Homo sapiens: one gene and its partners. The protein of the gene in region 1 interacts with the protein of each later gene in a pairwise test. Each region holds a gene or a part of one and is shown in the gene's direction. Other genes may lie near its edges.

The links.
Region 2: the proteins of PRKCA (region 1) and CTSO interact in binary tests that used the Homo sapiens proteins (3 or more experiments, as listed by UniProt).
Region 3: the proteins of PRKCA (region 1) and GABPB1 interact in binary tests that used the Homo sapiens proteins (3 or more experiments, as listed by UniProt).
Region 4: the proteins of PRKCA (region 1) and H4C14 interact in binary tests that used the Homo sapiens proteins (3 or more experiments, as listed by UniProt).

What each region holds. Positions count from the first base shown.
Region 1 is NC_000017.11:66,732,613-66,736,112, forward strand, and holds part of PRKCA (protein kinase C alpha type), read left to right. Parts: intron 1-75; coding exon 76-213; intron 214-2,876; coding exon 2,877-3,050; intron 3,051-3,500. UniProt on the Homo sapiens protein: Calcium-activated, phospholipid- and diacylglycerol (DAG)-dependent serine/threonine-protein kinase that is involved in positive and negative regulation of cell proliferation, apoptosis, differentiation, migration and adhesion, tumorigenesis, cardiac hypertrophy, angiogenesis, platelet function and inflammation, by directly phosphorylating targets such as RAF1, BCL2, CSPG4, TNNT2/CTNT, or activating signaling cascade involving MAPK1/3 (ERK1/2) and RAP1GAP.
Region 2 is NC_000004.12:155,951,067-155,955,283, reverse strand, and holds the start of CTSO (cathepsin O preproprotein), read left to right. Parts: upstream 1-1,417; 5' UTR 1,418-1,436; coding exon 1,437-1,571; intron 1,572-4,217. UniProt on the Homo sapiens protein: Proteolytic enzyme possibly involved in normal cellular protein degradation and turnover.
Region 3 is NC_000015.10:50,299,699-50,303,198, reverse strand, and holds part of GABPB1 (GA-binding protein subunit beta-1 isoform beta 2), read left to right. Parts: intron 1-75; coding exon 76-270; intron 271-1,830; coding exon 1,831-1,942; coding exon of another isoform or gene 1,943-1,978; intron 1,979-2,296; coding exon 2,297-2,410; intron 2,411-3,500.
Region 4 is NC_000001.11:149,831,191-149,833,552, forward strand, and holds H4C14 (histone H4), read left to right. Parts: upstream 1-1,466; 5' UTR 1,467-1,494; coding exon 1,495-1,806; 3' UTR 1,807-1,862; downstream 1,863-2,362. UniProt on the Homo sapiens protein: Core component of nucleosome. Nucleosomes wrap and compact DNA into chromatin, limiting DNA accessibility to the cellular machineries which require DNA as a template.

The sequences.
Region 1 (3,500 bases):
TACAACACGGTGGTTTCTGTCACTCTTTCCCCAGAAAAATGACCCACGTGTTTCCCATTTGTGCTTGTTATTTAGAAAGCCAAACTTGGCCCTGCTGGCAACAAAGTCATCAGTCCCTCTGAAGACAGGAAACAACCTTCCAACAACCTTGACCGAGTGAAACTCACGGACTTCAATTTCCTCATGGTGTTGGGAAAGGGGAGTTTTGGAAAGGTAAGAGGACAGTCGTCTGCAAATTGCAGGGGCTTCTGCAGAGAATGTCGAATCAGTTTTGTTCTCCTCGTAGTTTGCAGAATAGCACATTAGATTTCCCTGTGATTCAAGGTCAGGAGATCAAGACCATCCTGGCTAACACGGTGAAGCCCCATCTCTACTAAAAATACAAAAAATTAGCTGGGCATGGTGGTGGGCGCCTGTAGTCCCAGCTACTTGGGAGGCTGAGGCAGGAGAATGGCGTGAACCTGGGAGGCGGAGCTTACAGTGAGCCGAGATCGCACCACTGCACTCCAGCCTGGGAGACAGTGAGACTCCGTCTCAAAAAAAAAAAAAAAAAAAGATTTCCCTGTGATTTGTACAGTCATCCAGAAGACCACCAGGATGGCTAAATGGTAGAAAGGAGAGGTTTATTGGTGGTATCAGTTTGCAAACCCATAAAAGAAAGTCTATGGTGTGAAATGAAGGTGCCCTCTCTTTGAGGAGAGAAAGGGCAGGTTGGGTTTTATGCCTCACAGGGTCCATGTTACACAGTAGAGTCATCCATATTCAACAGGTTTGGGGGGAAAGCTTGACTTATCTGTGAGGGAAGCCTAGCACAGGCACAATGGATGAACATATATGTAACATGCATCTTATGTTCACTTTGGGGTGGGGACTTAGCATTAAAATGAGGTGGAATTTGCCTAGGCATGGTGGCTCATGCCTGTAATCCCAGTACTTTGGGAGGCCAAGGCAGGTGGACCACTTGAGGTCAGGAGTTTGAGACCAGCCTGGCAAAAATGGTGAAACCCCATCTCTACTAAAAATACAAAAATTAGCTGGGTGTGGTGGTGTGCACCTGTGATCCCAGCTACTCGGGAAGCTGAGGCAGGAGAATCGCTGGAACCTGGGAGGTGGAGGTTGCAGTAAGCCAAGATCATGCCACTGCACTCCAGCCTGGGCAACAGAGGGAGACTCCGTCTCAAAAAAAGTAAATAAATAAAAAAAGGTGGAAGTTGGCTCTTTAGATCAAAAGGTGAACCACAGGACCCAAAAACAGTTTGTGTGCAGGCTCTGCAAGCTGCTGAAACTGGCTTCAGGTCTGCAGTTGCATCACAGAAAAGAATGTTTGTAAGGCCAGTTCTCTGTCCAGTCCAAGTCATAGTGATCTGAGTTGTCAATCAAAGTTAGGAGGGGCCTGATAGCTCCTACTGCTAGGGAGTTTAGCGAGAGTGGTTTATCTTGTAGCTGTAGGGATTTAGAAATTTGCCATGCCAGCTGGGCCCTGAACCCTCAACCCATAGATAACTATTTCCTTAACTTTAATGTTACCAGAAAGGGGTCCTGATCCAGACCCCAAGAGGAGGGTTCTTGGACCTCAAGCAAGAAAGAATTCAGAGCGAGTCCACAGAATAAAGTGAAAGTCAGTTTGTTAGAGAAGTAAAGAAATGAAAGAACAGCTACTCCATAGGCAGAGCAGCAGCATGGGCTGCTTGACTGAGTATACTTAGAGGTATTTCTTGATCGTATGCTAAACAAGGGTTTTATTATTCATGAGTTTTCTGGGAAAGGGGTGGGCAATTCCCAGAACTGAGGCTTCCTCCATCTTTTAGACTATATAAGGTAACTTCTGGGCATTGCCATGGCATTTGTAAACTGTTGGGGTGCTGGTGGGAGTGTCTTTTCACATGCTAATAATGCATATAATGAGCAATGAGGGTAGCCAGAGGTTATTCTCATCGCCATCTTGGATTTGGTGCGTTTTGGCTGGCTTCTTTACTGTATCCTGTTTTATCAGCAGGGTCTTTCTGACCTGTGTCTTGTGATACTAGCCCTGCTGACCTCCTATCTCATCCTGCGACTAAGAATGCCTGACCTCCTGGGAATGCGGCCCAGCAGATCTCAGCCTTATTTTTCCCATCCCTTATTCAAGATGGAGTCACTCTGGTTCAAATGCCTGCGACATTAGGGTCCATCTTAGTCGCTAAAGAGGCATTTATTTGGTCTCTCAGATCAGAGTGCACAGTCCTCACCTGGTTTCTACTTCCTTAAAAGCAACTGCATCCAAAAAGCTATAGTGGGTTCACTGTGTTGTTACTATTTCTCAGTGTTCAGAACAGAAGGGATGCTCAGAAATGCTGGTTGATGAATAGTTTTCACAACTAAAAATTAAATGTTCACTTGTAGTAAGCAAATACAATCATTAAGAGATACTGACATGGGGTCTTCAGCAATTTGCCTGTATCTCCATTCGGTTTCTGTGGCCCCACATTTCATAGACGCAGGAACTGATTTCAAGTCTAGGTTCTTGACTTGAGAGATTATAAATGTCAGTCAGCTTTCACTCTAAGGATACTCCTGAAAAATGTGCATTATTCCAGACTAATCCTGATAGAGAATGTTGAGTATTCATTTTAGCAGCCAAAATAGTGCCATTATGTGGCAGTGGCCTATACCATTTACAAATCTTGGCAGCATTGAAGTTTTGCAAATGCTGGAGGGACTGAATTTGTAGTGATGTGTAGAATTTACAAATTTGCACATAAAGTTTAATATTTTTATGTTCCACATTGACAAAGGTGCACAAACTGTCACTGAGCCGTCACCTGGCCTGGTTCCTTCCCTCTGCCCCCCAAGATATGTGCTTACAAGTGTTCAGGTTGTTCTTGACGTGTTCTCAGGTGATGCTTGCCGACAGGAAGGGCACAGAAGAACTGTATGCAATCAAAATCCTGAAGAAGGATGTGGTGATTCAGGATGATGACGTGGAGTGCACCATGGTAGAAAAGCGAGTCTTGGCCCTGCTTGACAAACCCCCGTTCTTGACGCAGCTGCACTCCTGCTTCCAGACAGTGGTAAGGACCCTGGGAATCCCTGCGATGCAGTACCCAGCTCTCAGAGCTACGCCTCAGCCCAAAGCTTCTTAGCATCCTTGTTCCTTTGGAGAAGGCTGGAGAAAGGTGTGTTGTGATGTCAAGCAGAGGTGACTGGGGACCACCTCCCACCTCTCTCACTGGTAGATTTGGGGCATGCCTTCTCTGTGATGTCCTCTGCTTGGCATTCATGCCATTTAATTCGGCAAACATTTCTTTTTCTTTTTCTTTCTTTCTTTCTTTTTTTTTTTTTTTTTTGAGACAGGATCTCACTCTCTCGCCCAGGCTAGAGTGCAGTGGCACAGTCACGGCCCACTGCAGTCTCAAGTAGTTGAGACCACAGATGTACCCCACCACACTCAGCTAATTTTTGTATTTTTAGTAGAGACGGGGGTTTCACCATGTTTCCCAGGCTGGTCTTAAACTCCTGAG
Region 2 (4,217 bases), on another chromosome or scaffold:
CCTGAAATGAGTTTAGTTCAAGGGGCTTTTTTACAATACCAATTATCCTAAAGTAAAGATGACTGCCTATATTTAAATTTCCTGACTCCGTAGGTTGTCAATAAACAGGGACTATGATCTGAAAGCAAAGTTCAGTTTAAAAAGAAAAGTATGTGCTTGTATGAGTCACAAAAAAGGGCTAAGTACAAAAGAACTGCTGAGGTAAACATGAACATCGTTCTGTGAACTTATGATTTAAATAAAATCTTTATCACCACACTTGCCAAGAGCAATATATCTTATCATGAACGTACATAAAAAACTCTTGTGTCTTTCCTCTTAATACTCGGAACATTATTTTTATTTTTATTACGAAGTTTGCATTGGAGAATATTGTAACTCACTGCACCTAGGTAAAAACTAAAGACATAAATCTGATGTTAGTTCTAAAAATCTACAAGGGTAATGATATGAATTTCACAGACATGGAAGCCTTGTTCAGAATAGATGATAATAGAAAGGCTCGGTAGAGCCAGGTTCATGAGTGTGTGACCTGTGCAGAAGTGGGTGCTTAGAAGGCCCATGGCTTGGGTTAATGCTCTGCTGTTGCCGTCTTGAAATTCTTCACAATTTATGAACAAGGGAACTTCATTTTCAGTTTACACGGAACCCTGCAAATTATGTACTTGGCTCTATCTTCCTTTGCAAACGGAGAAACAGGCTTCAAGAGTTTTGAAACTGCCATAATAGATCCAAAAACTGTGTATGCTTTTCACATCTGTACAATTTTGTTACGTATTTATAAACATCTGCTGAATGGATGACTCTATGTATTGGCCCACATCACTTCAGAACTAGGTCTTGAACTTAGGGATTGTGGCAAGAAGGAAAAAGGCAGCTTCCGGTGGCTCACAGGGCAGGCCAGGTGGCTCACACCTGTGAGCATTTTGGGAGGCCAAGGCGGGTGGATCACTAGAGTCCAGGAGTTCGAGACCGGCCTGGGCAATATGGCAAGATCCTATCTCTACTAAAAATACAAAAATAGCCTGGGGTGGTGGCACGCGCCTGTAGTCCCAGGTACTCCGGAGGCTGAGGCAGGAGGCACTTGAACCTGAAGGTCGAGGCTGCAGTGAGACCTGATCTCAACACACACAAAAGAATGACTCTCAGGCTTCTTTTTTTCTAATGGATGGAAGTGAAACCTCGAAAGCACATGGTCAAGTGCCTGACTCTTCCAAAACAAAAACAAAAACAAAAAAACTAGCCTCAGCAAGGAGGTCCGTAGCCTCCAGCTGACCGGATTTTCAGTCACAGAACACCGGGGACCTAAAAAAGGGTCAATCTCAGCATCGTGCACTCAACCCAGCTCCTTCCGCCCCTCGAGCCCAGGCTGGGAGGAGCCGAGGAACCGAAAGAGAAAACAGGCCGCGCGGGCGGCAGAGGAGCCGGGCGCCGCAATGGACGTGCGGGCGCTGCCGTGGCTGCCGTGGCTGCTGTGGCTGCTGTGCCGGGGCGGCGGCGATGCGGACTCCCGCGCCCCCTTCACCCCGACCTGGCCGCGGAGCCGCGAGCGTGAAGCCGCCGCCTTCCGGGTACCGAGCGCGCGCCTCCCCGGGATCTGTCCCTGCTCCCTCACTTCCTGTCCCGGGTCTGGGCTGCGGAAGAGGGCCCCCGAGAGCTGACCCTGCTCGTGGGCACCCGTGGCTCTGCGATGCGTCTGGGGCCCTGAGCTGCGGGTGCAAAAGCCAGCTTCTCTCTCCCCTCTCCTTGTGCCATGGTGTCACTCCCCCATGCCTTTGCTAACCAAAAGACTTGATTTTCCAGAAGAGATTTGTCGCTATGGATTTTTGGGACGCACCCAAATAAATCCATAGATACGTCCAAAGTGTCCTTGGTGGGAAGAAGCACCCCCTTTTAGCAATCCCCTCTATCGTTGCCACTGGCTTCCAAAGCTCTTCTATTTCTCTTTTATGAGAACCAGAAACAGGGAGCAGCCTGTTGGTGGAAGAAACCTGTCGTGTTTTTTTTTCCCGAGGAGGGCGCTAGTGATCAGAAGTTAGAAACAAAGAGCCTGTCTTTAGCCAGATTAAAGAATCCTGATGGTTTATGATTCTCCTTAAACTAACGCACCACTTTAAAAGTTCTTCCTGCCTTGGCGGAGACTGAGTTGAAGAAAAGAGAAGCATTTAATTTCCTTTTCATATTATTATACGAAATATAATATAATTTATATTTTATAATATTTATAATAAATACTTAGATTTGAGTCTAGCATGAAAACTCTGGAAGGGACCAGTTAGCTGAGCACAAATAATGATTTTCCTGAAACCAAGGAAACTGCAAGGGATGCCGATTTAGTGTTCGCCTCACTATGTTCTAGATAGCTGATACTATTTAACACATTTTTAAATTCATGAAAGATGCCATTATCATGATTTAATTTATTGGAAAAGAAAATTCTTTCATTCTGAATCAAACATAAGTCTGAGTTGAGTAATATTGCTCAAGGAAGTGTATCTTTTTTCCTGGTGTTTGTTGGAATTTCTCACAGGATTTCATAGCTGTGCTCTTTTCCCCCGACTCTCCTGGAAAGCTCCAATGTTTAGGAAGGCCAGCCTTCCCTGATTCTGTCCACTCTTACGTTTTGTCCAAACCGAGATGTGTACTGTTATCTCCACTTTATTATTCTTGAGTTCAGTTCTAGCTTTCAAAACCAGAAGTCCTCTTACTCTTTCAAGAACAAAATTCTGGCCTGTATTCTACCCCTATCCTCAACTTACGTTCGTTTTCCTGGTAAACGAAACCCCTTAGGGGAAAAGTCAGTTTCACCTTTATTGGTAACGTATTCATTGGCTAAATAAATAAACACACTGTCAGGCTCCTAAAAATAATATTTCAGGACAAAGCTCAAAGGGCTAGACTTATAAATATATTTTTAACATTTATTTAGATTTTAGATAATTTATAAATATATATGTGTATAATTTATGTAGTGACTCATACTGGTCCTGTAAAGAGGCCATACCCTGATGAATGTCTAGAAAATGTAACTTTTCTCAGGAGAAATACAAAGAAACAGGTTGAAAGATGGAAAGTTGGAAGTGGAGGAGGATCGAATTATGAAGACTCTTAGTACATTTTAAAAACCTCGGGTTAAGAAATACTGAAAAAATTTTCAAAGCAATTGCTGCCTGTAAGAATTTGCTTCATGAGATGGATACCCAAAAAAGAGAACATTGAGGCTTCAACGCACAGTTGCTGGAAACTGAACACCTCTCGGTGCTTAGTTGGACTTTATCCAAGAATGCTTTAAAACCGATTTTCTACCTTAGTGGTCCCCAATCTTTTGGCACTAGGGACCGGATTCATGGAAGACATTTTTTCCATGGACGGGAGGAGGGAAGTGGGGGAGATGGATGGATTTGGGATGAAAGTCTTTCATCTAAGATCATCAGGAATTAGTTAGATTAGTTAGCTGGAGATTGCTGTTCGGACTTGGGATAGAGAGCTGGACAGTGGGAAAGGTGGAAAGGGCCTTGCCTCCTTGGTAACCGTGAAACTTCTTGTTGAAATCAAGTTAATTCATTGGTGAATTGATGATTCAGGGGTTTGCAGCTGAAGATCTGGTTCAAGAAAGTCCTTGATTAATTAGTAATGTCTTTCATGGTCATGGGTTTAGAGAATGGTGAAGGTTTTAAAATTTGTTTTAATCTTAGCCTTAGATAGTTTTGTAAGTTTCCCAGGAATGCACGTTAAATGAAAGTTAGGTTAGCCCATGACTTTCCCACAAAATATTATAGTATTGTTCAGTGAAAACTAGACTCCACTATGGTTTATTATGGGATGCCTCACAAGACACCTGACTTTGGATGGCACCCCTTATCTCTGCACTTTCACTCCTTTAGAAACTTCCAGTGCTCAGGAAGCTCTTAACTATTGGATTTAGCCTACTCTCCTTTGTGCCAAAACCTAGCTATGCCCTCATATTTACTGATGCTCATTATTTTACCACAGAACATTTGGTATTCTTATCCTTTTGGGAGGCACAGACCCAATATTGGATCCAATAAAATTTGCTTGATACACTCACTTTAGAATAATATCTATGCCAAAGTACATGTGATTTTACATAAAATTTCCAAAGCTTTACCTTAAGACCAGTTGCCGTAATGACACAGGTTATATTATTATAAGATTATTTATATATTTAGGAATATTTATTTATGTGTAAATAGATG
Region 3 (3,500 bases), on another chromosome or scaffold:
AACTAATAATTTCATATCAGGAATTTTTTATGTGATATTTCATATTTTAGTAAACTCTTTGAAATATTTTTGTAGCATGGTGCTGATGTCAATGCAAAGGACATGTTAAAGATGACAGCTCTCCATTGGGCCACAGAACACAATCATCAAGAGGTGGTGGAACTTTTAATCAAATATGGTGCTGATGTACACACGCAAAGTAAATTTTGTAAAACTGCATTTGATATTTCAATAGACAATGGAAATGAAGATTTAGCAGAGATATTACAGGTAACTTTTGGCTTTTAATTTAAGAAAATAAAGAAAAAGAAGCCTTATCAGTAGAGGGATCTCTTATATTGTGCATGATTTAAACTATTGTTTGTAGCCTTTCATTTTGGACTTAGTTATTTTGGATAGGCCTTTTTCTCTTTCACTTCCTCTTTGTTTATTACTATTCATTTTCTTGATTATAAGGCCAGTCTCTTCATTAACATTAGATAAGGTGATTACTTTCTGTTTTTTAAGTTTCTGAATTTCCCTTTAGACCTTTTTTTTTTTTTTTTTTTTTTTTTTGAGCCAGAGTCTTGATCTGTCCCCCAGGCTGGAGTGTAGTGGCACGATCTTGGCTCACTGCAACTTCTGCCTCCTGGGTTCAAGCAATTCTCCTGCCCCAGCCTCTCAAATAGCTGGGACTACAGGTGCATGCTGCCATGCCTGGCTAATTTTTTGTGTTTTAAGTAGAGATGGTGTTTCATCATGTTGCCCAGGCTGGTGTTGAACTCTTGAGCTCAGGCGATCTGCCTGCCTCGGCCTCCCAAAGTGCTGGGATTACAGGCGTGAGCCACTGCGCCTGGCCCTAGACATTTTATTCTATTATTTTTGTTGCATTTTGATACTATATGGTTTTTCCAAGTCTACTATAAATGACTTTATAAAAATTAAAAAACATATATATTAGCAACCATAATATCATTCCTTGAGTGAGTGATGCAGTTTGATTTGTTTCTTTTATCTTTCAGCATCCTCAAAAATATCTGTTGTTTTTGGCTTTTGGGAAGATTTTTCTAGTAACCAACATTACTTCTCTTATTTTCAGCCAGATGACATAATATAAATTATCTTCTTTAATTACTGCCTCTTCTTGCCTGTTTGTTCCCAATCCCAGCAGTAGAACTCTTCTTTTCTAAGACTATCTGACTCCTTTGAGCTTCCACTAGTTACTTAAAAGATGTTTTATGTTCAGGAAAATGAATTCTACCATGCCTCTTTTCATTCCTTTTACTCCTAAGAGTGCAGTTTGGGGGTTGGAGTTGAAGATGGGGAACAATTAATTGAGAAGGACATGCTTTATATATGTGGTATTATGTATTGCCAAACGTAGAAGAAATAATTAAATTCCTATAGCTACAGGGCAGAAATATTTTTTGTTTGTTTTGTTTTTGTTTTTGTTTTTTGAGATGGGGGTCTCACTATGTTGCCCATGCTGGTCTTGAACTCCTGGGCTTAACCACTCCTTCTGCCTCAGCCCCCTGAATAGCTGGGATTACAGGCACCTGCCACCTCAGCCAGCTTAATGTCCAGTTGTTCTGTGTTCTGTTAAAAACCTTTTAGATACTCGTTTCTCCTCTCCCAGGATTTTGCTGCTTTACCTAAGAGGGGGACTTGGGATATAAATATATACCCATGATGTGCCCCTACACTGTCAGTGGACCTTAGACAAATATTTCCACTTGTACTATGTGATTCTTCTTAGAGAATACTCCTTTATATGTGTTTGTATTATATGGAGAATTTGTGCTATATGTTCTGGTTATAATTCTGAAAACACTGTGGTCATTTTTTCCCTAGATTGCTATGCAGAACCAAATCAACACAAACCCAGAGAGTCCTGACACTGTGACAATACATGCTGCAACACCACAGTTTATCATTGGACCTGGAGGGGTGGTGAACCTAACAGGTCTGGTATCTTCAGAAAATTCATCCAAGGCAACAGGTATTGAGATGCATATAGGATAGGCTTTGGGATTTTATGCTTTAGTAGGTATTCATCCTTGTAAGAAAGGACGGTTGGAGAATGAGGGTAAGATTCTATCAGCCACCTTTGTTTTCTTTGGTATAACTGGCAAAAAGATTTTTATGAGACAAAACAATCTGAAGAAAGGTGATATTACAAAATTTACTGCAGTATTACCTTTCAAAAGCTAATGCTATCCAAGCTTTGTTTAAGAGTCAGTAAGATAAATAGAATATCAGAAATATGCATTGGATTAAGCTCCTTAGAAATTCAAATCTATTTTCTTTTTTCTTACAGATGAAACGGGTGTATCTGCTGTTCAGTTTGGAAACTCTTCTACATCAGTATTAGCTACATTAGCTGCCTTAGCTGAAGCATCTGCTCCATTGTCCAATTCTTCAGAAACTCCAGGTTAGAAAAACGAGTCTAATGTGTACATTAAAATTGCAGATTCAGGCTGGGTGCCGTGGCTCACACCTGTAATCCTAGCACTTTGGGAGGGCGAGGCGGGTGGATTGCCTGAGCTCAGGAGTTTGAGACCAGCCTGGACAACATAGTGAAACTCTGTTTCTACTAAAAATACAGAAAATTAGCCAGGCGTGGTGGCACATGGCCTGTAATCCCAGCTACTCGGGAGGCTGAGGCAGGAGGATTGCTTGAACCCGGGAGGTGAAGGCTGCAGTGAGCTGAGTTTGTGCCACTGCACTCCAGCCTGGGTGATAGAGCAAGACTCTGTCTCAAAAAAAAAAAAAAAAAAAAAAAACCAAAAACAGTTGCAGATTCAAATATTTACAAAGGCCAGGAAGACAATAAAAGGCTAAAGTGGGCAGGATTGAGATTACACCCGGCTGAAGAATGGGGCAAGGGCAGGGAGGCATCTGTGACTCAACTCTAGCTGATTATAGTCATCAGTCCAGTATTCCCAAATTCTGTTTTTTAATAGGAAGCTGTGAATCTGGATTTTAAAAGAACATTAAATCTTGGTAACTAATTGAAAAACAAAACTTGTGTGGCTCACAGAAAAAAATGTCCCTGTCTCTAATTTGGCTCTTGATTTACTAGTTTGTGACTTTTTGTTTAAACAACTCACTTTGGCTGGGCATGGTAGCTCACACCTGTAATCCTAACACTTTGAGAGGCCAAGATAGGTGGATTGCTTGAGCCCAGAACCCTGGGCAACATGGTGAAACCCTATCTCTACCAAAAAATATAAAAATTAGTCAGGTGTGGTGGTCCACTCCTGTGGTCCCAGCTGCTCAGGAGGCTGAGGTCAGAGGATCGCTTGAACCTGGGAGGCAGAGGTTGCCATGAGCCAAGATCATGCCACTGCATTCCAGCCTAGGCGACTGAATGAGACCCTGCCTCAAAAAAAAAACCCAAAACCAAAAAACACTTTTTTCATAAATTTTAATTTTTAGCAGCTCTACTAGAGTGTTATAAAATCTTAATGACTGATAGAACTAGGAAATAGTATACAGAAACCACTGTTAAAGGGTTACCT
Region 4 (2,362 bases), on another chromosome or scaffold:
AATGACTGAAGAACCACCAGGTGGATCTACGTGTCTCGAGTCCAGAAGTCTGAATACAGATTTACGATTTATGAGCACACAGAAGGTGGATCCAAGGGAGAGATTAAACAGGGCACAGAAGAGTTTTTAAAAATAATATTTTTCGGGAAAAAAACCCCAACAAAACACGATTCTTTCAGCAGAAACCAGAAGATTTTCTCATAGACTCTCCTACAGAGAGCCCTGATAAAGTAATAAACATGCTAACAGTAAGAACCCCAACCAATTTCATAGGGCAGTTTGCGGTAACTACTCCCAGTATGGAGCAGACAGTCCTCTTGCAAAACCCGATTTAGCAAACTTTGCTAGCTCCATGTGGGGCCTCCAAAGGACACAGCTGGGCACTAAATCCTGGCTGAAAACAAAGGCCGATTTAGAGGATCCGTAGAAACGGATGCACAGAATATCCCTCAGTCTTCTCTATGTAGCAGGCCCTCCATATACGCGGGTTCCCCAAGACCGAAAATATTAAACAAATGAATTTCTTTTTTAAAAAAAAGTACAACAAAAGATAGTAAAAATAAAAACAGTATAACAATTACTTACATAGCATTTACACTGGATTAGGTGTTACGAAGTAATTTAGAGACTATTTAAAGTACACGGGAGGATGTGCATAGTTATGTGCAAATACTACGCCACTTTCTATGAGAGACTTGAGCAACCTGGATTTTGGTATCGGCGGGGGCCCTGGACCAATCCCCTCTCAGTTCTACCGAGGGAGAACTGTTTTGTTTCTTCCAGCACGGCTTTGACCGACAGTGTGTTGGGATTCGCTGACGTCCATGAGAAAGCTTGGCAGCATGCTGAGACCAATTTTCCCAGGGCCAGAATTCTCCTGTGTGAGCTAAAATACAGTGGCTCGGTCCAACAAAACAGAGCCTGGAGCCAGGAATTATGGCGAACCTGCTCCCTCCCGTCCTCCCTTGGCGCACAGATCCCTGGCGCCGCCGCTCTTGAGGTCGCCTCTCGCGTGTCGACCTCATCGTCGGAACGGCGCTTCCTGAAGCTTTATATAAGCACGGCTCTGAATCCGCTCGTCGGGATTAAATCCTGCGCTGGCGCGCTCCTGCCAGTCTCTGGCCTCCATTTGCTCTTCCTGAGGCTCCCTCCAGAGACCTTTCCCTTAGCCTCAGTGCAATGCCTTCCGGGCGTCCTCAGACCAGACACAGGCCAAAGCCACTACAGAATCCGGAAGCCCCGGTTGGGATCTGAATTCTCCCGGGGACTGTGGCGTAGCGGTTAAAAAAAAAAAAGAGTGAGAGGGACCTGAGCAGAGTGGAGGAGGAGGGAGAGGAAAACAGAAAAGAAATGACGAAATGTCGAGAGGGCGGGGACAATTGAGAACGCTTCCCGCCGGCGCGCTTTCGGTTTTCAATCTGGTCCGATACTCTTGTATATCAGGGGAAGACGGTGCTCGCCTTGACAGAAGCTGTCTATCGGGCTCCAGCGGTCATGTCCGGCAGAGGAAAGGGCGGAAAAGGCTTAGGCAAAGGGGGCGCTAAGCGCCACCGCAAGGTCTTGAGAGACAACATTCAGGGCATCACCAAGCCTGCCATTCGGCGTCTAGCTCGGCGTGGCGGCGTTAAGCGGATCTCTGGCCTCATTTACGAGGAGACCCGCGGTGTGCTGAAGGTGTTCCTGGAGAATGTGATTCGGGACGCAGTCACCTACACCGAGCACGCCAAGCGCAAGACCGTCACAGCCATGGATGTGGTGTACGCGCTCAAGCGCCAGGGGCGCACCCTGTACGGCTTCGGAGGCTAGGCCGCCGCTCCAGCTTTGCACGTTTCGATCCCAAAGGCCCTTTTTAGGGCCGACCACTTGCTCATCTGAGGAGTTGGACACTTGACTGCGTAAAGTGCAACAGTAACGATGTTGGAAGGTAACTTTGGCAGTGGGGCGACAATCGGATCTGAAGTTAACGGAAAGCTACCGCGGCCCATAGCGCTCACAGCCGTAAAGACTTAAGTCGTTGACCGAAAGCGGCTTTTTCACTTACCTGGGCTTTTTTTTTTTTTTTTTTTTTTTTTAAAGCCTTTATCGGTATGAAAGGTTGAATGCTCTAGGTTTGAGCACTGCTTTCTCGGCTTGCTCTTCTGGTGCAGTATAGGCACACCTAGAGGGCCACGTCAGTCTTTGCGATCACCAAATCTGGTTCTGAGAAATAGGCACTGGCAATTTACACATGCCTTGCTGTGTAATCTCACTATATTTGCTCAGGCAAAGTGGGAGAAGCAGCCTTAGGTTTTCATTCTAGAGATGCCGGCTTTCCCACCTGATCGGCTTAGAGTTCACGATTGACTGTTTTGGGCTTCATTTC